Regions from separate parts of the Homo sapiens genome. Here regions 1, 2, 4, 5, 6 and 7 are each linked to region 3. The links come from fine-mapping of genetic effects on gene expression. A gene starts in region 3. Each other region holds a variant in brackets. All regions are shown on one strand. Distances are between the middles of the regions. Region 1 has its middle 10 kb from the start of CD180. Region 2 overlaps MAST4 (microtubule associated serine/threonine kinase family member 4). Region 3 holds the start of MAST4 (microtubule associated serine/threonine kinase family member 4). Region 4 overlaps MAST4 (microtubule associated serine/threonine kinase family member 4). Region 5 overlaps CD180 (CD180 molecule). Region 6 holds the start of LOC105379003 (a long non-coding RNA gene). Region 7 overlaps MAST4 (microtubule associated serine/threonine kinase family member 4).

The links. PIP is the estimated chance that this variant, and not a neighbour inherited with it, causes the effect.
Region 1: its variant is fine-mapped to the expression of MAST4 in whole blood (INTERVAL, PIP above 0.99).
Region 2: its variant is fine-mapped to the expression of MAST4 in whole blood (INTERVAL, PIP above 0.99).
Region 4: its variant is fine-mapped to the expression of MAST4 in whole blood (TOPMed, PIP above 0.99).
Region 5: its variant is fine-mapped to the expression of MAST4 in whole blood (INTERVAL, PIP above 0.99).
Region 6: its variant is fine-mapped to the expression of MAST4 in left ventricle (GTEx, PIP above 0.99). The same link has a PIP of 0.9 or more in atrial appendage.
Region 7: its variant is fine-mapped to the expression of MAST4 in whole blood (TOPMed, PIP above 0.99).

What each region holds. Positions count from the first base shown.
Region 1 is chr5:67,204,804-67,208,883 of GRCh38, reverse strand. No RefSeq gene overlaps it. Among named protein-coding and RNA genes, the nearest start is that of CD180, 10 kb to the right of the region's middle. RefSeq lists an enhancer at 1,535-2,734. The variant T/C (reference allele first, on the strand shown) is at 1,847.
Region 2 is chr5:67,051,048-67,055,127 of GRCh38, reverse strand. It overlaps MAST4 (microtubule associated serine/threonine kinase family member 4), which reads right to left. Exons shown (of 29, transcript NM_001164664.2): 5 at 636-724. Among named protein-coding and RNA genes, the nearest start is that of MAST4-AS1, 49 kb to the right of the region's middle. The variant G/A (reference allele first, on the strand shown) is at 2,352.
Region 3 is chr5:66,594,589-66,598,668 of GRCh38, reverse strand. It overlaps MAST4 (microtubule associated serine/threonine kinase family member 4), which reads right to left and starts at 2,276. Exons shown (of 29, transcript NM_001164664.2): 1 at 1,651-2,276. The coding sequence starts at 2,013. RefSeq lists silencers at 1,531-1,680, 1,691-1,830, 2,441-2,640.
Region 4 is chr5:67,157,701-67,161,780 of GRCh38, reverse strand. It overlaps MAST4 (microtubule associated serine/threonine kinase family member 4), which reads right to left. Exons shown (of 29, transcript NM_001164664.2): 27 at 1,189-1,325. Among named protein-coding and RNA genes, the nearest start is that of CD180, 37 kb to the left of the region's middle. The variant A/C (reference allele first, on the strand shown) is at 1,559.
Region 5 is chr5:67,183,508-67,187,507 of GRCh38, reverse strand. It overlaps CD180 (CD180 molecule), which reads left to right. Exons shown (of 3, transcript NM_005582.3): 2 at 1,491-1,657; 3 at 2,923-4,000. Among named protein-coding and RNA genes, the nearest start is that of CD180, 11 kb to the left of the region's middle. The variant A/GTGTGTA (reference allele first, on the strand shown) is at 2,220.
Region 6 is chr5:66,438,329-66,442,408 of GRCh38, reverse strand. It overlaps LOC105379003 (a long non-coding RNA gene), which reads left to right and starts at 1,983. Exons shown (of 3, transcript XR_948380.3): 1 at 1,983-2,262. RefSeq lists an enhancer at 1,724-1,973. The variant A/G (reference allele first, on the strand shown) is at 1,814.
Region 7 is chr5:67,004,594-67,008,673 of GRCh38, reverse strand. The region is part of intron 4 of MAST4 (microtubule associated serine/threonine kinase family member 4); the gene reads right to left. Among named protein-coding and RNA genes, the nearest start is that of MAST4-AS1, 2.5 kb to the right of the region's middle. The variant C/T (reference allele first, on the strand shown) is at 2,344.

The sequences.
Region 1 (4,080 bases), 610 kb before region 3:
ACATAGTATAAAGTTAGAAGGTGAACATCTCATTAATATTTCACATCAGTTACATTGATTTTATATGATTGCAATAATATTTTGATATATTGAGTTAAATAAAATATATTCCTGAAATTAATTAATTTTTCACTTTGGGGCAGGGAGGACTGCCATGTCATTTATTAAGAGAAAGCAAAATGAAGCAAGGAGCTGCTCTGGGAACACACAGGGTGATGGCACAAGAACACAATAGCTAGTGTGTCCCACAGTCCCGGAGGCCCCTGCCCGCTTCCTCCACCAGGGCCTGCCCAGGGTCTCAGGGTGGCCTCCCTACCCTGCTTCCCTCCAGACCCCTTCCATCCCCTTGGAAGGGCATCCTCCCTCCTTACAGGGCCAGGTATTTTTCTCTGGATTTAACCAGACAACGACATTTTATTTTCTGTTCATCTCCTCCAACCACCCAACTCCCACCTCCTCCCACTTCTCTTCCCTGCCTCCCTTTTGACTGAAGAATCCCTGCTCCCTTGGTCTTCCAGTGAGGCCGCAGTGACTAAAGGGGACCCCTTCCCATCCACTCATCCCCACCCTGGTCCAGTTTCCCAGACCCCGATGCAGTTGGTTGTAAATTCTTCCAGGAGCTGTTTTCTGTCTCCTTTTTGGGAATTTTTTTAAAGTAAAAAACTTAAAACAGAAGTTTAAAAAGCAAAATGTGGAAGAAGAAAGCAATGACAGATTTGTTTCGTGGTTTTTTTTTTCTTTCTAAGGTGGGCTACTAGAAAACTTACAGTTGCATATGTGGCTCCCATTTCTACTGGGCAGTGCTGCTCAGAAGGATGTGCAGGGTTCGCCCAGGCAAGGAGACCCATGTTTAAGGAGATGACAGAGGCTGGGAGAGCACTGCCTAAGAGAAAGCCTAGGGGACGAGGCTGGGATGGGGTCACAGAGCATCGGGCTGGCACTCTCCCACCTCGCTCTGCCCTTGACTCCGACTATGACTAAATGGACATTTTTCATGGGCAAGGAAGGAGACAGGATTAAAAGTTTTCTTCAAAGCATTGGGCAAAACTGGTTGTTTTGGTGGGTTTTTTTTCCCTTCTTCGGGCTTCCCTGATGCCTTCTTTCTCTTGTTTGATCTCTGGGGCCAGACTCCCTAGGTTCAAGCCCCAACCCATCCATACAGTGAATGACCTTGGGCAATTTACTTAGCTTCCTTGTGTTTCTTTGCCTAGAAAAGACTACTCAGAGTCTAGGCATAGGATTACATTAGTTTGCATCTCTAAAATACTTAGAACAGTACCTGGCAATAGTAAGCACTATGTGCTAGATACTCATTTCTCAGACAAGAGGGGGATAAAAGGTAAATTTTAATGAGCTTTCTTATGAAAATGGTAAATGCTTCATATTCTATTAATTTAAAAAACATCAGCAACCTTCCAAATTCAATTCTGCTGATGAAAGTATATGTATTTTTTTTTAAAAGATGACAATCCAAAAAAAAAAAAGGTGCATCTATTTGGGAAGTGTGGGCCATGGCCAGGCTATTTTCTTGTTAGAATTCTGGATTGGGAGCAGGCCATCTCCTGCCCTGGAAAACAACCAGCTCTTCAAGAATCCAGCTCCACTGCACCCACACAGAGCTTGAGGCCTGGGGATAGCAGGTGCCTTAACCGCTTGTCATAGGTCTGAATTGCAATGGAGCTCAGTCATTTCCCGTATCAGCACACCATTTTGACTTCACATTTTGACCTCTCCAGAAACTAGCAAACCGCAGTGCCCCACCCAGCTGTACAGGTTTCTCTGAAAAACCACAGCCTAGGCTATCTCCAAATCAATTCTGAGAGTAGTTTTGTCATGACTGACTCAC[T/C]TGAAGCAAACATTTTTTGTCATTTGTTCAGTTTCTTTATTGACTCTTGACTATTTAATGTGCATGTTTCAAAGTTACAAGTCAGCCTCGCTTTATACAGCCAAGATATGTGTAGTTAAATTTTTAAAAATCAAGTCATCAAAAAACTTGCACCACGTTTGTTACAGTTGAAAGAAATTCTACAAGGAACTCTAGTCTGTGAGCACAGTCACAAATAATATGAGTCCTTTGATAAATTAATGTTTATCAGTTCTACAAATTAAAAGTGTTATGGTAGATTTGTTTAAAGCAAATTAAACTATATTTAGAAGGTGGGAACAGAAATTTTACAATTTCCTCTTTTTACTTCTTTTTTTGTTTGTTTGTTCATTAATTATAGACTGCAACAGGAACTACAGTAGTTATGTTCCAACGAGAAAAACTATGCTAGAATTTGAAACTAGAATGTTAGAATATCACCATACTTGGCCATTGCTGATGGCATCTCTCTGTAAGGACTTTTTCGCTACCTTGATGTCTGTTTATGGCTGGTCTGATCATGGTATATGCTTATTCTGCCATATAAACTGGATTTTTTCTCTGGTTGAAAACCCAAGACACACCAGTTCTTAGCTTCTTATTTTCTTCTCCATAGGCTCCATATCTTGCATCTCATTTGGGGAAAAAGTCAAAAAGCTAGATTTGCCCTACCTCAGAGGTGAACTGCCTACCACATTGGCCAATGTCAGGGCTGTGGGGCATGTCACATCTCAGGGGGCTGGAGCCCACCACTCCCTGACTTACCTCCTACAAACACATCCCACGGTGCCTCAGCTGGACACTAGGTCCCAGACCCTGAACTGGAAGAAGCTCAGAGCCGGGATCTCAGGCAGGTTTCCTCTTTGATGGTGCTGGCTGCTGAGATGATCAGGCATCTGAGCAACCCCAAGGACTCAGATGAGTGGGCCCCAACGAGACACTGAGGGAAGAAAACAAATGGGTGCTACCTGGGCCTTCCACAGACCAAGAAAGATGATGATCCCACAGAAACAAAGTTCTGGTGAATGAGGAACAAATGGGAAGGTATGACAATGAAAAGCCACAGCTTAAAGTGAGGTTCAACAATAAAAACGAATATAAAAATCTGAGGGGATGAAAGCTTAAAGAGGCCCAATTAAAGCAAGAACTGAATGCTGACCAAACTGGCCTTACAGGAAAAAGACTTTCAGAAAGAAAATGCAATCGAAGTGAAATGAACGACAGGCAAAGAAACAAATGCAACCTATAAAAATCAAAGAAAAATAATGAAGATGTGTTTTCCTGAGCACGGAGGTCACAGGGATTGAGCAAGGTTTTGACCAACTCCCCATCAATCTCCACATAATAAAGTGATAGATTTCTGCGACTGGGGCTGGTTTGGTTTTGTTCTTAAGTCAGAAATTATAGTTGTTTCCAGATCTTAGGCTAGAATCGAAAACTTGGGAAACACTCGGTATTTTTTATTATTTTGAAATTAAAACTCCCAAATGTAAATTGCCCCAAACTAGCAAATCTCAAAAACCTAAAAATCTTACATATGTTCCAGCCATGCAGGAGCTGAAAGAGAACTATTTACAATAGTTTTGATCAGTGTTATTTATAAAATGGAAATCTCACGAGTCTACTTAGAGCAAGTAGCACTTTTCTCTGGGGAAGTTATTGGGGAAAAGCAAAGCATTTTAGTCCCAGCTATACCAAATTTGGTGGCTTTGGGCACTTATTGGAAGGATCCAAACTCTGCTTTAAAATAGAAACACGTATGTGAGACTCAAGTCATCTCTAGAAAGATGTTTAGAAAATATGTGCAAATGTTCAGATATTGCCACAATAAAAACCCTCTGCCGAATCTTAACCATTTACTTCTAGTTCCCAAGCTCGTCCCCGAGCCCCTTCATATTCTACCCAGGGCACTCACATGCAGGATGACTGCTGGAGATCTTATGTGATTGGGGAGAGCCTCCCTCACAGGAGGAAGAAGCCTCAATAAGCAGAGATTGAGTATGCATATCTGGCAAGCCACCTTAATTAGCTTCTTCATATGTACAAACATTTCCTCACAGCCCTACTTAACGATCAGCGGTCATCATGTGCCCTAATTCAGAGACTCTGTATCAGCAATAAATTGGGCCTGGGGCAGCCTCCTCCTGCCCTGTCATTAAAGAGTCCTATTTACTGTGGCCTTTGCAGTCACTCCATCTCCTTAGCACTGGAAAGTC
Region 2 (4,080 bases), 460 kb before region 3:
CATCTTTCAACATCTTGGGCAAATGGCTCCTTTAAACTCTTCCAGACTTTCTTTATTGGAATTAACCCTTCTCTTCTTTGCATCACCATGGATAGAACTTTGAAGAAAAAAAAAAAAACCAGCATATAAAGCAGTTTTCATTGTCTAGTTTTTACAGTACTGTTCTAACCTTCCTTATAATTCTATAAAGTACTTGAGGCCAAAGGCTCTCTCTTAAATCTTCACTGTCCCTAAAATGACCATCACAATGTATTAGACAAGTTCAATTTTAGGGAGAAATATGCTGAACAGTTCTTAACATTAGTACTTTTCATATGAGTTATCATGTTTACATTTCCCAAGGATATTCCTAACATGGAAACCATGTCTTGTATCATCCAGGCATTTAGAAATGGAGAAAGAAATAATTAAAAAGAGACCCCATATAAAAAGGAATTCTGTATTTTAGAGTCCAAACACTGAAACAGAGAGGATAAGATCTGGGCTAACATATCGCAAAGAACAACTTAGGGATAAAACAGCAGGAAAACAAAGATAACATGTGAAGACATACCAAATATCAAAATGCATTAATTATTTTAAAAAACCAACAAATAAAGAAATAAAACAAAACTCAAGAAATGGTAACCAATTACCTGCATGAGCAGAGAGAGGTGAGTGTGGTCGAGGCAATGCTGGTGACTGCCCATTGCCTATTAAGCTTTTCCGGTTGCTTGTTCGGCAACTATCAAAAAGAAAGAAAAAACAAAGTTTAAAAAGAATATAGCATCAATAATGTTCAACCATGTTCCCGGTAGACATGGACCAGGTTGAGCAACCTATCTGCTCATGTTATTGTTAAAATTATTACAATTATGCATTCACTAATATTTGAGGGGTGGCTACCTCTTGAATATTAGAAAATATAATGTATTCATATAGCACAACACCATCAATATTCCTCACCACCAGTGGAGCAATAATCAAATGCCTTCTTCCAGCGCTTGAGTGCAAATATGTAACATGCCATACACACAAGTGATAAATTAAGGATTCAAATCAGCAAACCACAGGTAGCATCTTTGTTGACACAAAATTTCTAATACAAAATTACATGCAATGAAGTGCAGTGACATTAATCTTATAATGACGCACTAATTAAAAATCTAATTATTTAGACAAATTTCTTATTTGTGCCTTTTGTCAATAGAATAGCTGATGCCTAAGATAAATGTGTCTCACCACTCATTCATTTTTCATCTTGTATATGGCATTCAATTCTTTATTAAGGTAAATGTTCTGGAATCATAAAATCAGATCCCAGTGTATTAAAATAATAGTGATGGTCCTCTTTCACAAGCATGCTAGCTACTGGTTTTATCCTGAGTACCCAGAGCATAGAAATAAATTACTACACATGGGCACAGGGCAACAATTTGTTCCTGTTTCTGCTAGAAGGAAGTTATAAAATGGCTAATTTGATTTCAAAGTAACTTTCAAAAGCCTTAAAGAATAAGACAAATACAAAACTGGCGGATGGGTGAAGTGGATATTATCTTATTTTCATTTGCTTTTCTTCAAAATAGACTGGCACTTCATTCTCTATTAGCAATACAGTAGTCAGAGGAGGGTGGTAAAACCCAGCAAGTTACCTCATTTAATTCACCTATAACAAGGCTCAGGGCTCTGTGCTTCTATCCTCCTACACTGTGCTGCCCTCAACCACCATTAGGAGTTTATTGCAATGCCTTCTTAGTGCAGGACAGAACTCTGTTATACCAGATTCCTGAAACAGGAATTTTCACTGGACTTCTAATTTAGGTACAGTGAGATAACATTTCTAAATATTCAAATAATACATTTCAAAACCAAACCCAATTTCTTTCAGCAATACAGACTTGGGAGTTATCTTCTCTTAGATGTTTGCTGCTTATTATCATTTGTCAACAGTCCCATATTTATAATTTCTTAAGGTCAGGCTGCATCACTTTATTTTCCTTAGTGCAGCAATCAGCATCCCCTAGTATTATCTGTGAGTTTAATTAAGCTCATGTTTACTCAGCCTTAAAGCAGTTGTTAATAAGAATAGACTTTTGATATTTAATTATGAAGGTGGGTTGGATATTATCAACTCATCTATCAAGAAATGTATGTATTCAACCTATTAAATTCACAATCATTAAATCAGACAGTCTGATTGGTTTTAAAAGATACTGTATAATGTATTCAGTGTTAATTCAAATTAATGTCTTCTTTCATTCCAATACAGAAATATTAAATATATTAACTTGCTGATGTTAATAGAAGAAATTATAAATGACAGATTTATGTCCTGGAAATGTCAGCAAACTTCTTTCAGCAAATTAACTGAA[G/A]TTCAGGTTATTATAAAAATGGCTACATTTTTTCGTGTTTAGCATTTGATCTACATCATGCATAAAGATCTTTTCAACATATTTATTGTTTATATGCATAAATAAAATTCATAAGAAATGTCTGTCAATGCAAATAATCTAATGAATATCTTAACTAGATATATCAGTGAAATATGCTGATATACTTAAAACTAAATTTAGAAAATGTTATTTAAGAAAAACTTAAAAAATTTCTAAGAAACGTACACTACCATACATACTAAGGTACATACACTACCACAATAGGCAAAACAATGAACAATTTAGATTTTTTAAAAAATGAAAACATGAACAACAAACCCTCACAATTCCATTAGTTATTTAAAATCTATCAAAAAGGGGTAGAAAAGTGATTTCAAAAATGTGATTCAAAAAAAATATCAAAAAGAAATGTCTAAATAAAACCCCCAAATAAAATATACTTGTTTGGTCAATATACAAACAGATTTACATTACAGTCATCCTGGGTGCATCTACTCCTCTATACAGATTTCTAATCTTTATAAATAGATGATTCATTATGAATGCAATGTAGAGTGAAAGAAAACAGGCTATTTCATCTATGAATACATGAGAAAGTTAAAAGAAGAGAAGTTAAAAACAAATTACCTCAGAATTTGAACAGTTTACCATATTTAAGGTATGGGTAGTATGTTACACAAAACAAATTATCGAAGGTATATCTTATTGACAAATGCCATGAATAATCAAAGCATAATTCATCACTGAAAGTGTCTCCTCTAATCTTTTTTCCTTTCAACATGAAGCTAGAGATGATATTAAAATTACAACAGACTTGGAACTTTCTGGGATCTCTCTCAACAATGAAATAGAAAACTTTTAAACATCAAATGATCCCAAAGTAGCAAAGCCAGTGTTTATATAATATAGGCTGATATATTTCCATATGTACATGAAATAAATCTGTATACTTATGAAATGGGGTCTTCGCCTTATGAATGAATTTGTTGCTAAAATTTTCAAGGGTAGAGGGACACTTTACACAGCATTTCATTCCCAAATACCTATATCTTGATATATATATCTAAATACTTTTAAAATCCTAGGACCCTACTGAGATATTCTGTAGAAAACCTTTCCAGGGTACAGGAAGGAAGAGTCATCCAATCTCAGTATTACCTGCTTCTGGGATATCTGACAGTCACCTAATCTTATTACTCTAAGTACCTGATTCCCAATAAATGAATTAAAATCTGCACTTAACTCCAACAGTAAGAAAACTTCAAGTGGGTTAGAACTGCATCTGTCACCCAGGTTGCCACAGCACCTGGCAATGCCCACATTAATAATAACATTGGTGCAAAATGCTGAGCTGACCTCTGTCCTCCAGGTATCACACACTTTCCTGCCCATGAAAGCAGAAGTTTATGGCACCTGCACGTCAGGCAGTCTCTCCAGGTGTTCATGGCCACACCTACTCATTTAACCCATTAAATGATAAAACAGTGGAAACATCTCCACTCAGGCAAATTAAAGGCTCCTTCCTTTTCACCAGCACAACTAAGTCAATTCTGCCTTGTTTTTTTTTTTTCAAGCAAAGTCACCCAAGGGAAAAACAGGTGATGTCCGACCAGATTAAACATGAATACTACTTCTCCTGTAGCAGAAATATCTTTTTTATAACTCACCCTTATCTAAGCATTTGAGCTTGTAAAGAGTTATCTCCAGT
Region 3 (4,080 bases):
CCCAGCTTCCCAATGCCAGTGTGCTCATCTGTAGAAGTGGAGGCAGAAGTTAAGGGGCAAACACGTGGCACATGCCCCGCACCTTGAAAGGGAGATGTAATCAGCGAGGAAGGCTGGGGCAGTACAGGGTTTGATCATCTCCGCTAGGATGTAGCTCTGCGGTGGGTGAGGAACTCAGCAAACTCCTGACATCCCGCCGCTAGGATCGATTTGGAGCTATGGATTCATCTGAAATTCCTGATTCGAAACAGGAGTATGAGAGTGAAAATGAAATTTACCTTGAAGCTCCTCCTTTTACAGATTATGGAACTGAACCTCAGAGGAGTGAAATGATATACCCAAGGTCTCACCACTCAGTAGCAGAGGCAGTTCTAGAAAGCAGGCCTCCAGACCCTTATCCAGGATCCTTGCAATGGGGGCTTAGGGGAATTAGGGAATGGGTCATGGTTACTGCAAGTGGCTTGGCCAAGAACCAGCTAAGCAGCTAAGGCTTGTTCCATCTCTGCCAAGCTAGGACTCGCCTCCTCTCAACCTTGTGCCACATCCAGTTTTTGCTTCCAGGCTGGGGGCCTCTGATTGCTTACTCTAAGGGACAAAGGCAATTATTTACTAAAGCTAACCCCATCCAAGATGAGGAAAATACAACACTGGCACTCAGGAATTAATTTCACAATAAGTCTATGTTAAGGTGATGTTTTATTTGTGGCCCTGCCTGATCAAGATGACTTCCCCACAAGAAACGTCCAAAGCAAACAATCTTTTTTTTTTTTAAACTGAGTCTGGCTCTGAGACGTGAAGAATTGTACACTTCTTTAACTGTCCTCCAAAAGCAGAAAATAAGCCGGACAGAGCAGCCAGAAGGACACCAGAGTCCTATGCTCAGTGTGTCAGGAAGCGACCCACAAGTTCTGGAGGAACATCCTTCCAGGAAACTGGGCAGATACAGATCCCCCACCCCGCTCCGCCCCGCAAAAGGTAAGACGATCTGTACTCGGTTTGGTGACAAGCGTTCATCTGGACAAGCTGGAAACAAGTCTGAACGGGAGCTGCAGGCGCGCACGCCAGCGCCACCGAGGGAGCGCGGGGAGTCCTCTTCTCCCAGAGGACCGACGCTGCGGGGACGCGCCAAAACCACCCGCGGGCGATCCCAGGGGGCTGGCGCCACTGAAACCTCCGCAGGCAACTCCGCGGCTACCGCTGCCCCCCACCCTACTCCTGCCTCTTACCCCCAAGGCACCATTTCTCCCCCTCAACTCCCTGCCCCTCGGCCCAAGCGCTTCGGTGGGAAACAACGCCCACTTTGGAGAATCAGAGGTGAGTTGTGGGGACACGCCAGATGTCCAGATCGCATCCTTTCACAGATCAACCAAGTCAGATACAAACACGAAGGAGTTTGCTTCTCTGACATTTTAAAAACACACCATCAGGCAGCACACTGAGACACACACACGGGGGTAACAGCCACAGGGAAGTCAATAACCCACAGGGGGGCTCCTAACTATCGTTGTCCCGTGCTCGGGGCAGAGCGCTTGGGGTCCCTCCCTATCTCCAGGCCACAGCGCTCTCCTGCCCACTGCCTGTGCGCAGGATGGGAAACTACGGTCGCCCGGCTGCCGGAACCCAGAGTGGGCAAGCTGGGGAAAGGCCCACCTCCTCGTCCTGCTCCTCCTGGGACGCGCTGCTGCCCCGGGGCGCGGGCGGCACAGCTCCTCCGGGAAGCGGCGGCGGCAGCGCAAGGACTCCGCGCTCCAGCAGCACGCTTGCCGGAGCCCACGCGGCGGGCGCCCGGGCGCCCAGGGTGCCTCCCAACGGCGGCGGCGGCGGCGGCTGATGCTCTCTGGAGAAGCCGCCGGGCTCCCCTTCCTCCGACAGAGTTTCTGAGCCCGAGGAGGACTCGGCCGAGGAAGCACCCGGAGAGGACGCGGCGACCAGCGCAGAGGCTGGAGTCCGGCTGCCGTGGCCACTGCAGCCGCGGGGCACCGGCTCTGGCGCCTCCGAAACTTTCTCCCCCATTTCCCTGTCTGGCCCAAAGTGCCTCCCGAGCGGCGGGGGCGCGGCGCGCACTCAGCGCCTCCCGGGGAAGACGCGGGCTCCTGGGCTCAGGCTCACTGGCACTGCCGCTCCCGGGCTGCAGGGAGCCCCGCCAGCGACTACATGGCAGTGACGGGGCCGCAGGAGCCCGCTGCTAAGTTCACAGCCGCCCGGGCCCGGCCGCAAACGGAGGCTCCCGCGCGCGGGGACATGCCCGCTCGGGTCCGCGATCTGCGCTCCACTGTGCTCCCGCGCTGCACCCGAGCCGCGGGTACTGCGGCTTCTCCTTGCAAAACCTGCCTCCGGGACGGAGCAAGGAGACGGGCAGCCCGCAGAGCCAATGGCAGGGCAGGCGCGCTGGTGGGCGGAGGCTGCGACGCCTCCGGCCATGAGGGCCTCAGGTAGGGGAGGCGGGGCCCGGGCGCGGGCCGTGGTCCCGCTGGAGCGCCTGGGCGCAGGGGACAGGGACCAGGCGGGGGTCCCCGGAGGGTGGGGGCGGAGCCCAGAATCGGAGCCAAGGGCTGAGACTCCGAACTTAGCGGGGGAGTGGCTGACCGTCCTTGGGACGTCAGAGGGAGACGGCGAGCGGATGGTGAGACCTTGGAGAAGAACTGGACTTTGTCTCCAAAAAGTGGAATCAAGAAAACGGACAAGAAGGAGGGCTCTATAGGGAAAAAAGGAACCACACACACACAGTCACCCACGCACACGGACTCACCAGCGTGTTGGAGGAAAAGGACAGAAACTTCGTGGTATAGTGAGCGGACCCAAAGGGGAGTGACCTCTAATCTCTGCTTTTCCGTTTAAGCTCTTTGGGCCTCAGTTTCCTCAACTGTAAATGGCTACATTACTACTGGTCTTGGCAGGCTTAGAGCAAATATATATAATGCATCAGCAAAGTGCCTGGCTTGGATACACGGAGCGTTTTTAAAAGACTATTTCCTGTCTTTATTTCTGTTTGTAAACTAAAAAGTTAAGTCTGAGACTTGAACCTTTTGATAGGGAGGAAGATAAAAAAGTATGTCCTTGTATTTAATTAGGACCAAGCTCTGTAGTCCTACTCAAATTGTCTGTCTCGGTATGATCAGCTAAGCAGAGGATGAAAAGGATTCACTTTCCAATGTACATTCTCCTAGCCCTGGGTTGTAAACCAACAGGATACAGGACAGGTTGCTTCATTTTCCTTACCTCTAAGAACTAGGAGAAAGAACTTTCACTAAAGGTACCAATAGAGTACCCTTAAGTCCTTCCCTGGGGCTGGAGGATGCTGCCTGTCCGGTGACTGGAATTTCCTTGGAAGCCAGCACTCAGCTCAGCAGTGGGAAATAAATGATTCCTCTCTTGCCTTCAGCTCTAGTCCCATTCTGAGCTCTGGCACAGTGACCTGGGATGTAAATTCAACCGCCTCAGTTCCATGTACGTTGATGGAGATGTGTGCCAGGTGCAGGGGATACAAAGATTAATAAGTCAGGTCCCCTGCCCTTGAGCAGCTTATGGTCAAGCGAGAGATTGATACTGCATAATATAGCTCCCTTATCCATTTTAGAAGCTGTGATAAGTGATACAGGAAAAATGTGTGAGGGAGAAGAGGAAAGAGTTACAGAAAAACAGTAGCAGGTCCTTGAGCATCTTAGATTTCTCTTTGTCAGAGCAGCCTTGCCAAAGGTCCTTAAAAACTGGAGGACCCTAATTGAAAGCCCCTTCAGCTAATGAGCCTTTCATGCTATCATGGTATTTACAAGTGATACATCACACAGAGGGCTTCATCATATTGGACAGCAACCTTTGTCCTGATCAGTTTCCTCCCCTCAAGATGAAGGGGAAGGAAATACGTTTTGTCTATCTTGCTTCAGACAGCCATACTGCAAAATGGACTCCGGTTGTCAGGCTTTCATTGTGACGCTTCTGAATTATTCACAGGGATATGAAGACCTGCTGAGGCAAAAGGTCAAGTCTAGTGGCAGCTAAGTTGTGAGAGCAAGGCTAAAGAGAGAGCACAGTGGGGCAGTCCGAATTTAACCCGGGCCTCACAATTACTTTCCTATTTAG
Region 4 (4,080 bases), 560 kb before region 3:
AAAGAAGATCTTATGTGTGTGTAATTTTAATCAGAGTAATAAATGTACTTGGGTGAAAAAGTCAAATACTTCTATAAACATACAATGAAAAACAGCAACTCCTCTACTCGAATTTTTCTCTACTCCCCAAAGAAGTCGCTTTGTATTCTTTTACCTGTTTCTTCTCCCATTTGTCTACATATTGCTAAATGTTTGTACACTGCTATTTTTTAGTTTTTCAGTTTTAGAAATTACCTGTTGATTTTCTACTATGAAAGATGATAATTAAGCTCTTATACAACCACCTTCTACCTTGCAACCAAATATATTTCCCCTTTTCTATTCTTCCCAATATAGCGAAAGCAAAATTTTTGGTTAGAAAAACGGCCGGTATTTTATCTTATATTATAAATATTGTTCACAGCTGGGCCATATGAAACATAATTCTGTTCCTTTCTTGTATAACTTTTTTTCCCCCCAGAGTTAATACATGGCTTTTCGTTTGCTTGTTTTTCTACATTTCTATCATCAAAAATCCTTTTAATATGATGTGACTCATCAGGCCCAATTGAGTAAAGAAATGCTGTGGCATTGCAAAGGAGGCACACCCAGAGAGCTGCCTGGCAAGAAACAGCCCTGCCAGAAACACATACCTCTTGCTAGTGTCTGCAAGCAGCACAAAAAGATACTGATCAGTGCTTCCCAGGCTACAAAAGTATATAAGCTAGTTCGTTTTTCAGTGAGTAAAACAAAGCCCTTTTATTTCTAGGCTTATTCGGAACCTTTAAAGGTAACAGTAATTTTAGAATATCTGGCATTTTAAAAATAGCAACTGTTTGTTTTTTGATAACGTAAAGGACATTTTAAATGTAGATTTAATGTTAAAAACCACCTGAAGATCCAGTTCCTCAATCCAACTCAACTGAAATCAAGTGAAGAGGCTTAAAAAACAGCAAAGGGCTTTTCCTGACATTCACACATGATAAAAAACAATCTGAATCCTTCCACAATGTAAATATGTAAATCCTTTTACTATGGAAGTTGATGCTATTATGAATATGGATTTTAATGTATACATATATGTGAACCATAACATAAAATTTCTCACAGAAAAATAGATCTTCTTCATATATAAGCATTTAATTAAGGGGTAACTTTTCCCCAACATAGGTATACACCAAACTTAAAAAGAATACTGATTTTACTAACCTTTCGAGACTTTCTTTCTTCTTGGATTTCTTGCTCCGCCTCACCATCCGGCTCTTATAGCTGTTTCTCCTGGCTGGTCCAGTTTTGATTGATGTGTTTTCAAATGGGGTAGTAGTGATTGACACCTTATTCCCACTCTAAAGAAAAGATGAGGTGGCATTAAAGGGAAATGCTGTGATGAAGCAAGATCAGAACAGAGATGAGAGATTCATAGACAAATACAAATAGAAAGGAACATACATATAAAAGGCCTTCTGTTTCTAAATAACCCTTCAATCAAAGAAGTCCTGCCAGAATACAAACTGGGTGGAAGGCAAAATATGAAGTTTCTTTACGAGGGTGAGTTCTGGAGTCCACAGATCTGAGTTCA[A/C]ATCCAAGCACTGTGCCCTTACCAGGCTGCTACCCTCCCTACCCTCAACTTCCTGTACCAATTAACAATATAATCCTACCTATCTCCTGGGGCTCATTTGAGGATCACATGAGAGCAAGTCTGTAAAGCCTTTTGCACCCAGTGCAACACAAGGAAAGAACACTATAAATAAGATAACTACTTCTTCCACAGGTATTAAGTATTAATGTTCCCAGTGGCTGGCTGCTCTTGGTTGATTTTTCTTTTTTCTCCTTTTTGTGTTTTTCCTTTGGCCTAAAAATTGTAGAGTAACAAAACCGAATGAGACTTTTATTTTTAATTATTTTAAAAGGCTCCTTTTCTATCACCATAAAACCTATCAGTTTGCAGAGCTGGAACATTTATGCCAGCCAGTAGGAAACCTCTTTTTAACCAGGTCATACAGGGTAAGGTAATTTCTGTGAGTTTCGGTGTCCTTTCTCTCAATCCTGGGAAGGGGCTTGCTGGGCAGCCTCTAGGGATGGAACTGAGCGTGGAGTCAGCAGTCAGGCCGAGGGGGGCCCAGGGCAGGTGGGTAGTCCCTGGCATCAATTACCCTTCCTGAATTTCATAATAACCAGGGGAGAAACCTGTCCTTTCAAGGTCACAGATGGCCCCGATTACCATGAAAGTACAAGAGGTACAAGGAAAAGGATCTTTTTAAAGGCCCATGCCTGGAAGATACCTAGAGCTCAGCTCAACATGGTACCAAGTGAAGGGGAGTTGGGGGGAGTTAGGTATGGTGGCAGCAGAGGACTGAAAAGACAGGGAATGACTGTCTTAAAGATAGCATCTACCTTCCCCCTTGATTTGGGAAGTAATCCATGCTACAGTAAGAAGATAATAGGAAAGTATTAAAAAAAAATTAAGAAGCTTACCACCCAACCACTAGTCATATTTCAGTATATTTCCTGCTGGTTTTTTCTCACGCATGTGTAAATAGGCACATATGTACACATGCTTTATAACTAATTTAAATCTCAGTTTATTTACAGCTTTATGTTGCTTTTTCATTGCACATTATATAATTTGGAAAAATTTTCCCTTTATCATTAAATAATCTTTAAAAACATGATTTTTACTGGCTGAGCAATATATCCGATCAGATGGGTGAATCAAAATTATGTAATATTTCCTTACTGCTATTGTTCTCTTTTTTTGTTGTTTTTTGAGACACAGTTTCACTCTTGTTGCCCAGGCTGGAGTGCAATGGCACGATCTCGGCTCACTGCAACCTCTACCTCCCAGGTTCAAGTGATTCTCCTGCCTCAGCCTCCCAGGTAGCTGGGATTACAGGCATGTGCAACCAGGCCTGGCTAATTTTGTATTTTTAGTAAAGATAGGGTTTCTCCATGTTGGTCAGGCTGGTCTTGAACTCCTGACCTCAGGCGATCTGCCTGCGTTGGCCTCCCAAAGTACTGGGATTACAGGCATGAGCTACCGTGCCCAGCTGATTATTTTCTGTGTTTAAATTCTTACACAGTTTGATGTTGTCCCTTATTTAGTTTGGTTATTTGTATTTCTTTAAGAAATGATTTATTCAGTCTTACATCCAGTTTAATATTGGAAGGTCTTAGTATTTTATTATTAGTTTTAGAGTTCTTTAATTTTTTTTAATTAAAAAAAATTTTTTTGAGATGGGGTCTTCCTCTATTGCCCAGGTTGGAGTGCAGTGGTGTGATCACAGCTCACCACAGCCTCGAACTCCTGGGCTCAAGCAATCCTCCTGCCTCACCCTCTGAGTAGCTGGGATTACGGGAGCACACAACCACGGCTGACTTAGAATTCTGTGTGTGTTTAAGACAATATACTTTCATACCTAATGTCATATTTGCAGGAAATATTTTAGGGAAAGGGGGCTTTAACTTCAACAAGAGAAAAAAGTTTATTTTGTTTTCTATCGCAAAATAATAAACATTCTTCATGCAAGCCCCAAAACATTAAAAATAAACCTTTATCTGATAGTAGAGATGGCATTCTAGTTGTTCTTTAATGAGAAAAATCATTTTGTAAGTATGTAAGGTCTACCACTGAAGGTTTTTTGGAGTGGGGTCTTCTCTTCACAAATTGAGGCCATGCTGAAATTTTAGTATTTCCTGTGGTGAAGGAAAGGGGCAACAAGCATGGCGAGTTCCTGTGTCACTGATGTTCCTTCAGTCCTCTTCCATATGCAGAGAGTGGACGTGCAGAACCATAATGACCGCTGGGGCTATACTACCATGTGTGCCACTAGAGCTGGAATCCAGTTCCACTCTTTTCTAATACAATTCAGGATTGACTTTTTAAAAGCATAGATTTATTTTTAAACCATTTTCATATATATTCTCTAAATTTATTTTCACAAACAAGTCGTAAGCGTTGTTTGTTTCACCCTCATGGCCTAGAAGAGTTTGTTATCCTTCCTTTACAGGTAAAGAAAACGGATTCTGAGACAACAGACAACAAGGTTCTTGTTTCCGAGGTCACTGAGAGTCCAGTGGAAAAGCCCATGCTGGCTCTCTTGC
Region 5 (4,000 bases), 590 kb before region 3:
GAATACATGACTACCCTGGGGCACAGGATGAGGAAGTTATCTGTACTTATGTGTAGGGTTCTGCCCAAAAGCCTACTGTCTGGTATCAGCAGCCTACAAATACAGAGATCTAAAATTAATTCATACTTCAAGATTGCAAGGCCTCAGGTCTATGCCACCCTGCTAGTTTTTTTAAGCACTGTGTTAAGAAAAAAATGTTAAACATATACAGAAATAGTAACAAAGAATCTCAATATTCGACAATCATAAGCATTTTGCCTACTCACTTCATCTCTGCATTCCTCTCCTCCTTTTTTGCCAGATTATTTTAGAGCCAATTCCAGCATCATGCTGTTTTACTCCTAAATATTTAAATATGCTTCTCAAAAGAATAAGAACATTTCTTTTAAATAACCACAAGTCCACTGTCATTTACAAAATCCAGAATTCCTTAATATCATTGAATACTGTCCTCATTCAAAATTACCTGACAGTCTATAAAATGCCTTTTTGAACTGCTTTATTTGGATCAGGATCTAAATGAGGTCTACTGTATTATTTGATGGTTATGTCTCTTAAGTAGATCTTATATCTCTGTATCTTTTAACAAGCACTATCTCCTCTCTCATTCTCTCTCTCTCTCTCTCTCTCTTTCACACACACACACACACACACACACAGATAGAACAAAGTCAGTTGTTCCATAGAATGTCCCACTTAAATCCACCATATCACTTTGAGATGTGAAGTTAAACCTAAAATCTTGATGAGTTTAAAGTTTAATTATTTTTTTGGCAAGAATACTTCATAGACAATGCTGTATACCTCACATTGTCTCACATACGAAAGTATGTAATGTTTGATTGTCTTATTTTGGTGATGCTTATCTAAGGTCGATTTGTTTGTTTCAAACTGAAATTAAACATTTCCATTCAACCAAAATCAAAACTGTAAAACCAAGTGCATTCAGAGAAGTCTCACATTTATCCCTGCTCTTCTATCTGGTCTCTTCCCTCTTCTTAAAGGCAATCAGTTTTTGGGTTTTTGCATGGTTTGTTTTAACAAATATAAGAAAATTCACACACACCTTTCTTACACAAAAGGCATACTCTGTACATTATACTACATACTGTATACTATATACACTACATATATTGTTCTGCATTTTGCTTTTTTCACCTTGAAATATATCCCAGATATCACTCCATATCAATATATGGAGGGTTTTTTTTATTTTTTTCAGTTTTAGAGGATTCCATTTTGTGAATGTACCATGTTTTGTTCAAGTAGTCCTATATTGATGAATAGTCTGGTTATTGTCAATTTTGCTATTACAAAAAAAGTACTACAGTTAACAATGTGCATTCATCATCTTGTTTTTGGCAAGTGTATATTTGGTAAAGATTACTAGAAGTACGATTGCCGCTCGGAAGGTAAAACATATATAATTTTGCTAGATAGTCTATAAAATTATTAAGTCTAATATTAATTTACTTTGTTTCTCCCATCAGAAAGAAGCCAACAAAACATATAACTGTGAAAATTTAGGTCTCAGTGAAATCCCTGACACTCTACCAAACACAACAGAATTTTTGGAATTCAGCTTTAATTTTTTGCCTACAATTCACAATAGAACCTTCAGCAGACTCATGAATCTTACCTTTTTGGATTTAACTAGGTATGTATCTGAGTTATTTGTGTGCTCTTTTATTTTATTTAAGTTAAAATACAGTATGTGCTTAATTTATTTGCAGGACCTTTTTGGGGGGCCCAGGGACAATCTGCTTATACTACATGTTTATGCCTCCCCATGAAATACTCCTATGTGGGTGAAATGTAATTTAAATAAACATCAACCAATGGAGAGGAAAATGGATTGCTCTCAAACCAGTTGCATCAATAGCACTGTTGAAGCAGTTCTAAGGAATACTGATAGCAAAAATGAAAATAATCTTGTACTAAATCAGATGCCAAACTATGCTAAATTTTGGCATAGTTTATTTTTGGGTAATTACATTTAAGAAAAATTTCTAGGAGAAAAGCACACCATCTACTTTTCCCCCCTACAAATTGGAAAATGAGTTCCATTATTTTGTTATAGTGGCATAATTGGGATTCCACATGCTGAGCCAGTGTTTGAGAACCAGTAGGAAGAAGTATTACAAGAAAATAAGGGAAGAAAATGAAAGGGCTATACTGCGTGTGTGTGTGTGTGTGTGTGTGTGTGTGTGTGTGTGTGT[A/GTGTGTA]AGAGGGGACAGGCTCTGCGTGTACCTGCAGTCTGCACCCTTTGCGGCAGTTCTACTTCTTCTATTTTGTCCTTCAACTTCAGCTTCTGTGGACAGGATGTCCACATCCATACTACCGCTTCATCTTTAAAAGCACCAGTGTGAGATTCCATGGTGCGTAGTATCATCCAACTTATGGTTAGATGAGGAGGCCATCTGTGTGTGTGTGTGTGTGTGTGTGTGTGTGATCCAGTATTTTTAGGTGCAATACCAGGATGGTTTTCTCAGATGAAAATACAGAGGTTGAGAAAAGTTGTAACTTGCCCGGGATGACACAGATTTTTGTGTGTGTATATATATATGTATTTTATACCATATATTATCTATTATGCATTCTATATGATATATTTTGTATTACTTAAAACAGTAAATAATAATTTGATTTTTGCCACAATCAAATGACCCATGGTTCCTTAGAATACAGGCACAAACCTCTGAGGGTTCAATCTAAGGGGTGAGATACCTGGAAAAAAAATCTAGATTGGCGTGTTCAGAAGTGAGGCTACTCATTAATTCCTTCAATAGGCCATCTGTTGATATTGAAGAAAGTTCTTATATTTGATTTTGAATGATACAAAAGATGACTTTGTTAATGTGTGTCACTGTAAAGTATTTTTTTACTTTTTTCAAATGAATTATTGTTAAATACGATTATCTTTTCAAGGTGCCAGATTAACTGGATACATGAAGACACTTTTCAAAGCCATCATCAATTAAGCACACTTGTGTTAACTGGAAATCCCCTGATATTCATGGCAGAAACATCGCTTAATGGGCCCAAGTCACTGAAGCATCTTTTCTTAATCCAAACGGGAATATCCAATCTCGAGTTTATTCCAGTGCACAATCTGGAAAACTTGGAAAGCTTGTATCTTGGAAGCAACCATATTTCCTCCATTAAGTTCCCCAAAGACTTCCCAGCACGGAATCTGAAAGTACTGGATTTTCAGAATAATGCTATACACTACATCTCTAGAGAAGACATGAGGTCTCTGGAGCAGGCCATCAACCTAAGCCTGAACTTCAATGGCAATAATGTTAAAGGTATTGAGCTTGGGGCTTTTGATTCAACGATCTTCCAAAGTTTGAACTTTGGAGGAACTCCAAATTTGTCTGTTATATTCAATGGTCTGCAGAACTCTACTACTCAGTCTCTCTGGCTGGGAACATTTGAGGACATTGATGACGAAGATATTAGTTCAGCCATGCTCAAGGGACTCTGTGAAATGTCTGTTGAGAGCCTCAACCTGCAGGAACACCGCTTCTCTGACATCTCATCCACCACATTTCAGTGCTTCACCCAACTCCAAGAATTGGATCTGACAGCAACTCACTTGAAAGGGTTACCCTCTGGGATGAAGGGTCTGAACTTGCTCAAGAAATTAGTTCTCAGTGTAAATCATTTCGATCAATTGTGTCAAATCAGTGCTGCCAATTTCCCCTCCCTTACACACCTCTACATCAGAGGCAACGTGAAGAAACTTCACCTTGGTGTTGGCTGCTTGGAGAAACTAGGAAACCTTCAGACACTTGATTTAAGCCATAATGACATAGAGGCTTCTGACTGCTGCAGTCTGCAACTCAAAAACCTGTCCCACTTGCAAACCTTAAACCTGAGCCACAATGAGCCTCTTGGTCTCCAGAGTCAGGCATTCAAAGAATGTCCTCAGCTAGAACTCCTCGATTTGGCATTTACCCGCTTACACATTAATGCTCCACAAAGTCCCTTCCAAAACCTCCAT
Region 6 (4,080 bases), 160 kb after region 3:
TATAAAGGTCAAAGATTTTCCAAATGGAAAAAGAACCCGGGGAGGTGATGATTTTCAATTATGTGGTCCCTATGTAATGATGAGTCCTGAGCTTTCATCAGCCTTCTTAGCTGGATCACATCAAACCACATGGGGATTTTTCAGATGAACTGCTATTCAGCCTGCTCTTCTTTTTGCTCTATTATGCTTATTGCATTTTAGAAGTTGAGAGTAAACTCTCCTAGAGAGATTGGCTGGCTACTCTACTAGGCCTCAGAGGGAGATGGAATCTAAGTGGATTCTCCTCCTCAGTTTTATGTGTCTAGAAACTCCATCATATTAGAGCAGTCATTGCTCTTCTGGTGCTTTGGCCTGATTCACACAAATCCAACTCCAAAAAGATTGATGTATAAACGAAAATGCCTTTTAAAAATTTCTAATGAGATCTATATTTTTGCAGTGACTGATACTTGTGTCTAATATTAAGCAGATAGCTTGTAAAAACCTAGGGAAACAATTAGTAATTAAAAGTTTACTGGGCACAGAACCTAAACAAAAAACAAAAACAAACAGAATGTTCTTGAATCACATAAAGTATACTGCCCTAATATTAAAGTACTTACGTCTGCTAAATACTGCCTTTCTCTCATGGTCTGTGTAAACACCAACAAATCCTTCCTATTAGATTTCTCTTTATCTAGACTCTAAGCAGACCATCCACCTCCTATAAATCTATTCTTCCTCTAGACAGAAGGAAATACAATGGCTTAGGTCATAACTTTAAGTTATATTCCATGCGTGAAGATATTCTCCTAGCTATCATGATTGTAGGAGAATGCTTTCCAGGCTTTTATTTCAGCAACACATTATAAACACTCTCTTAACATGAATGACCTTTCATCTATTTTAGTTTTCTAATACTTTCATTTTTGGAATAGTTAATATACACACATAATAAAATAATTGTGTTTCAAAAAGTATCAAAAAAAGACATACAGTGAAAAGTTATCTCCCACTCCTGCATCCCATCTTTTCCACCATCAGTCTCTTGTGTATCTATCCAAAGATAATCTACACACATTCTTTTCTTTTGCATAATATAATGGTAGTATACTGTGCACATGGTTTTGTTTTTTGTTTCTAGAATTACATTATTCTCTGTAATAGCTGCGTAGAATTTCATCATATAGATGTACCATCTTTATTTAACTAGTCCTAGTAATGATACACATTTAGATTGTTTTCAGTCCTTGGTCATTACAAAGACTGCTACAATAAATAACATTGTTTAATTAATATTTCACACCTGTGCAAGTATATTTTTGGATGATACACTTGCACAGGGGTGAAATATTAATTAAATAATTCCTAAATGTGGAATTACATTTTTACTGTAATAGATATTGTCTAATATGTCTCCATAGCGTTGATCTGATTTACATTTTTACTAGCAATTTATGAGGGTGCCTATTCCCACACACCTCACCACAGAAAGAGTTCATTAGTTATCTATTGCTGTGTAAAAAGTAACAGTAGGCTGTGCACACTGGCTCTGCCTATAATCCCTGCACTTTGGGAGGCCAAGGTGGGCGGATCGCTTGAGCCCAGGAGTTTGAGACCAGCCTGGGCAACACGGTGAAACCCCCATCTCTACAAAAACACAAAAAATCAGCTGGATGTAGTGGCTTGTGCTGTGGTCCCAGCTACTTGGGAGGCTGAAGGGGGAGGATTGCTTGAACCCAGGAGGTGGAGGTGACAGTGAGCTGAGATCACTGTACTCCAGCCTGGGCCACAGAGAAAAAAAAATTACCACAATGCTAAATAGCTTAAAATA[A/G]CATATATTATCTCATCTCTCAGTTTCTGTGAGTCAGGAATTTAAAGGAACTTAGTTGGGTGGTTCTGCCTCGCTGACTCTTATGAGGTTGGACAATGCTGCAGTCATCCAGGGTGGGAGGATCCACTTCCAAAACGTCTCACTCACATGACTATTGGCAGAAAGCCTCAGTTCCTTGAAAATGTGGACTTCTCTGCAGGCCTTCTGGAGTGTCCTCCTGACAGCAACTGGCCTTTCCCAGAGAGAGTGATCCAACAGAGAGAGCAAGTAGGATATAGCTGCGCCTTTCATGACAGCCTCAGAAGCCACAAATCACCGTGTCTGCTATGTTTTATTCATCAGAAGTGAGTCGCTGAGTCCAACCATATTCACAGGGAGGCAAAGTAAGCTCTACCTCTTAAAGGAAAGGAGTATCCAAGAATTTGTGGATATATTTTAAAACGGCCACAGTGAGTTATCAAACTTGTTTTTATCTTTGCCAATATGATAGGTGGAAATGGTATCTATTGTGATTTTAATGTGCAATTTCCTTATTGTGAGTTTTTTTACAGCTTTACTGAGGTATAATTGGTATACAAAAACTGCATATATTTAATGTGTACAATTTGATGAGTTAGAACATATGCAAACATCCATGATCTCATCACCACAATCAAGGTAATAGACATCCAACACCTTACAAGATAAACAAAATTGACTAATCTTTAGCTAGATTAAGAAAAAGAGGGAGACAACTCAAGTTAATGAAATCAGAAACAAAAGAGGAGACCTTGCGCTGTCACAGAAATTAAAAGGAGAGAGTAGTATGGAAAATGATATCACAACAAATTGGATAACCTGGAAGAAGCAGATAAATTTCTAGATACATACAACCTACCAAGACTGAATCATGAATAAATAGAAAATCTGAACAGATCAATAATGAGTAAGGAGATTGAATCATTAATTTAAAATTTCCCAAGAAAGAAAAGCTCAGGACCAGATGGCTTCATTCATGAATTCTAATTTTTTTTTTTTTAGAAAAAGAAAACCATTCATATTTCCTTTCTGTAAACTGTCTGTCCATTACCTTTGTTGATTTTTCTGTTGGGGTTTTGATGTTTGTCTGAGGATATGAATTGCAAATATTTTCCCTGTTTGCCTGTTAACTTCCTCTGTGGTGGGATTTTTTTTTTCATGCCAACTTTCTAATGAAATTAAATTTTCAAATGTTTCTACTATTTGGAGCATCTTAGAAAGAACTTTAGGGCCAGGTGCGGTGGCTCACACCTGTAATCCCAGCATTTTGGGAGGCCGAGGTGGGCAGATCACCTGAGGTCAGGAGTTCAAGCCCAGCCTGACCAACATGGCGAAACCCCATCTCTACTGAAAATACAATATTAGCCAGATGTGATGGTGCATGCCTGTAATCCCAGCTACTGGGGAGACAGAGGCAGGAGAATCGCTTGATCCTGGGACGCAGAGGTTGCAGTGAGCCAAGATTGTGTCATTGCACTCCAGCCTGGGCAACAAGAGCAAAACTCCATCTCAAAAAAAAAAAGAAAGAAAGACCTTCAGCTCTCTGAGCATATGGTTAACAATCTGCTATGTGTTCATATATATACACATACGTGTGTGTGTGTGTGTGTGTGTGTGTGTGTGTTTTGGTGGGGGAACAAGGTTTGCTTTGTCACCCAGACTGCAGTGCAGTGGCATGATCATGGCTCACTGCAATCCTCCCACTTCAGCCTCCTGAGTAGCTGAGACTGAAGCAATCCTCCCACATCAGCCTCCTGAGAAGCTAGGACTACAGTTGCATACCACCACGCTCAGCTAATTTTTTAATTTTTGTGGAGACAGGTCTCACTGTGTTGCCCAGAGTGGCTTCAAACTCTCGGGCTCAAGTGATCCTCCTTCTTGGCCTCCCAAAGTCCTGGGATTACAGGCATGAACTGCTGTGCCTGGTCTGTTTTCTTCTATATTTTTGTGGTGTATTTTTTTCTATATTCAAATATTTGATTCACCTAAAATATATTTTGGTATAAGCTGTGAGGTAAGGAATCAAATCTTTTTTTTAGTTCCAGAAGTTGACTGCAGATCCTTGAATAACATTGTTTAGTTAACCATTTCTTCACAACATTGATGAGAAAAATAAATTGCTTTCCAGCCAGAGCCACTCTCTATGTGGAGTTTGCACTTTCTCCCCACATCTGCATGGGCTTTCTCCAGGTACTTTAGTTTCTACCCACATCCCAAAGATATGCACCTTAGGTTTATTGGCGTGTCTA
Region 7 (4,080 bases), 410 kb before region 3:
CTACCCATCGGCGTGGAAAATGGTTTTATTGATTTAGGCATCATCAAGGTTGAAAGATTATCATTAAGCAAAATGAAAACATGACAGATTTCTAAACATTAAGGTTAAAACACAAGCATCTTCTGGATTCTCAAGACTGCACTTCAGCAAAACTAAAGGCCCAACTCAAAACTTAGCAGCAACATTTAGAAATCAATTGTAGCCCTTTCCTTAAGGTGTGACAGAGAGCAGATATAATTAAAAGAGAAGCTTGATTCGTTTCCCCCAAAAGTTTTTCATCCAATGGGCAAAGAAAAGATGCTATAAACATAAGCAGTGACATGAATGCAGGCCAACTAATTTCCATTCTGAGTTGTGAGAGGATCCTCAATGAATGGAATAGCCACAGACCTATGAAACTGAAAATCTCTGAAACATGCAATCATTACTTCAGTCTAAAGCAACAAGTTTTCGTATAAAGTCTCTTCATTTATGCCTAGGTTTCTGTCCCTCAAAGCAGCAGGTGAATGGCTGTACTGAGACTACCTTGAGGAAATGAGGGGAAGGGAGAGGAGGACAAAGCCAGTTATATAGAAGGAACTATTTCCAATGGAACATGTAAGCTATACAGCAACAGAGTAGACAAAAGCCAGTGTGCATCCCAACAATCTCATGTCTGCCATGGTCAAGACAAAAGAGAATGAAGGGCATAATATACTGTCCTTGGGACGTAGCACAAGGGACAGAGTCTTTCAGTTCATCAGTACTGTGTCATCTTTGAGAATCTAGGCCTGAGAGTATGTCTGTAGGCTTCTTTCCTCAGGAACCCCAAGAGTTACAGGCACAAGTAGGGCTGTAGGTTTTAAGAAAAACCTTCAATATTTTTCTCTGAGAGTACAAACTAACAAACCAGCATCACATTGAACTATAAGGCAAACGTAATGTAGCAAACCAAAAGTTTCCATGATGACAATTTCTACCATAATAAAGGTTTAAGGTAAGAGTCTGAAACCATTCAAGCTCTCGTTTAAGTGTGACAAACATTCTATCCTTATGAGTTCTAAGATGCTCATTCATAGGCTCAAAGCTGAATTTTACTTTGATAGATGCAAGAAGCTGATATTAAAGAAAAAGCTAAGATAAAGTCCTCCAGATTACAATGTTAATCAGAACAAACAGATGGGATAAAATATTCAAAATGAACAATCTGTCACACAAGTCAGCAAGTGTGCAGGAGAGGAACTAAGTTTGGGAATGAGAGATATCTCAAGGGTTAAGGCATATCTGACTGATGATGACAGCAAGGTGTCCTCACCTGGACACTGGGGACACCCTTATCGAGGATGGCAAAACAGAACAACTTGCGAACAGAAAGGTCCTTTGGAAAGGAGAAAAACTACTCAGCCCGGTAAGGTACAGCATTAGACTTGGAAAAGGAAACAGGATTTAGAACAGTTAAGGGGCATCTCAAAAGTAGAAGTCACAATGTAAGCACATGTTTCATGTCCTTAGGGAAGGACATGGAGCCAGAATTGATCACTGTATAATAACAGGATGCAATAGCCACATACATTGCCCTGGAGATGAGGATACCTAGCCTTCTGAATCTACATAATAAATATAAAGCAATGCTAGCCCTTTGAGACAGACAATGACTCGATGGATGTAGAGATGATCTTTGGGATGTTTATTTCCAAACTGCAAAACCTGAAAATCTCCAGCAACAAACAGGCTGTCATAACCTTTACTCTTAAAAGGGGGAGAAGAAAATCCCCTTCCCTCTCTATTTTGCCAAATTGAAGATACGGTTTCATGACTTGGGGTGGAAACAGCCCACCCAATGCTCTCCCATTTTACTGGGAAGAATTCAGGTTTCCTTAGAATCTAGGCTCTCTGTCAGTGTGAGCTGTCTGAATTGGAGTGTTCAGGCTGGACAGGTACTGCCCTAAAGCCAGGCTCAGAGCAGCCTGAGAATCCTCCTGCATCTGACTCTCTCCAATAATACTATCAACAGGTAGGTAGGAAGAAGAAAGGCTCCAACTGCTCTACGGGTTCAGACACACACATACGATGCCAGAACAGACTTCTCTCCCTAAGAACTGGTTCCAGGTAAGAGTAGAGGCTGTACCGCAGCCAGGACTACACAACTCAGAAATATTTAAGGGATTCTGTCCAGCTGAAATGGTAAGAAATCATACGAATTATCACCATGTTGAGCAGTGGCCTAGTTCATGTGTAGCATGTATCTCTCTTCAACTTTATTAGTTGTCTTGGAGGTTTGGTGCATGGTTGACACAACTTGATGAGCAATACTACAAAATGAGCAATACTACAAGAGAGGGTCTCTGACCATATATGGCAGAA[C/T]GAGAAAAACATAGTCACATTACTTAAAAGGTACAACTTCAGAATCCAACATAGTTTAGTGGTATCAACACTTCAAACTGCATCAAAAAGCAAATATGACTTTGAAACCTGCCAGATGTCTCTCTCATACACACAGGTGCACATGTGATTTGTGTGTGCACCCATGTATATAAACAGTGTATGTGAGTATTCCAGGATGTTTCTGAAATGTAAGAAACCATGAAAAACTTCAAAAGGAAAAACTAAGTTTTCTAAAGTATCACATATCCACATTTATACTACAAAAAGTTACAGGTATAACCAAAAAGAACGAACCATTTTCTTGGGTTCTTTGAACACTGAAGCATAGAGATTGTGAAGCTCCAAATCTGAGAGCCTGCATCCTGTTTATCTGACTGCAAAGTTGCTCTCATGCATGTTCACATGTACATGCAAGGCAAGTTTTGAAGGAAAACAAAGAATCAGTATTAACACAACTCAAAAGGTGTGCCCCTCTAAAAGTACAACAATCTTACTTTTCTGTGCTGGACACAAATGTGGTGAGAAATGCCTCCTTCAAAGTCATAGTCTCTCAACACAAGTGTCAGCAAACTCTTGGAACTGCCTGTCACTTGTGGCATGAGCTTCATCTTGACATTAAAATTCTTTTTCTTTCCCCATCTTTTCTATCAAATATACGTTACAAAATGAAAAGGACACTCCTGTATTAGTAATAAATGCCAGCAAACCATTGAAAAATCAAAATGACAAAGTTATGTAGATCTGCCTCTCCACAGATAGTATGAAATAGCTAACCTGGGCTATCCTTGCATCGTACATCTGCATCTTATAAAGGTCAAATATTTAATAGAGAGGAACATCTGAAGGGCTCAACGAAAAGTACCAGAAGCCTCAATGACTGGGTGAATGAAATGGATAAACATGATCAGGTCAAAGGGACAGACTTAGACAAAGTATCTCCTCCTCTTTCCCTTTTTCTCCCCCACCTCTCACAAGGAAATGTCTTATTATCCACATTTCAAAAGGAGAAAACCTATGAGAAGCACATTTATCAGGGTTACCCAGGAAACCACAAGGACGAAGAAATACCTGAAACAGTACCCCCTCCCCTAGCGGGGCATAAACTTTTCAAAGTGTCACCCAATACACAAAACCCCAGCTCCTGAGGGGCTCAGGCAGCTCCGCCTGTGGGCCCCTGGGAAGTGAAAGCATTCCCTCTCCAGGCAGAGATCCCCGCGTTTTTACCTTTGTGTTCGCCGAAGCCTGTTCCCACTCCTCAAATGAGGCAAAGTAAAGTTTGAGAGCACAGTCCAAAAATTGGGGTCAGACATATCCATTTCTTTCTCTCTTCAATTCACTGTGGGTTCAAGGCCATATGACTAAAATGGGGAGAGGTAAAAAAAAGGAAGAAAGACAAGGCCAAAAATAAAAAAAAAATCCCAATTATCTACTCACTCCCTCCAGAGAAAATGTGATGGGAACTGTGATCTCAAGAACAACTTGGAGCATGTCTGAGAAGTACCCGTCCCGTCCTAGCCTTTAATTAACACACAGCCTCCTCTCAAAGGTCCGGGAAACTGATTTCCTCTCGGGTCTGCCCTCTCCTAGTCAGGCTCGGCCAGCTATAAACAGTAATTACATGAGTTGAGCCGTGCGTTCTGCTCAAAGCGCTGTCTGTGGGATTCAGTCGGAGGTACTTTGTCATCTGTTTGGCAGATACCACTCGCCGCTTCTGCG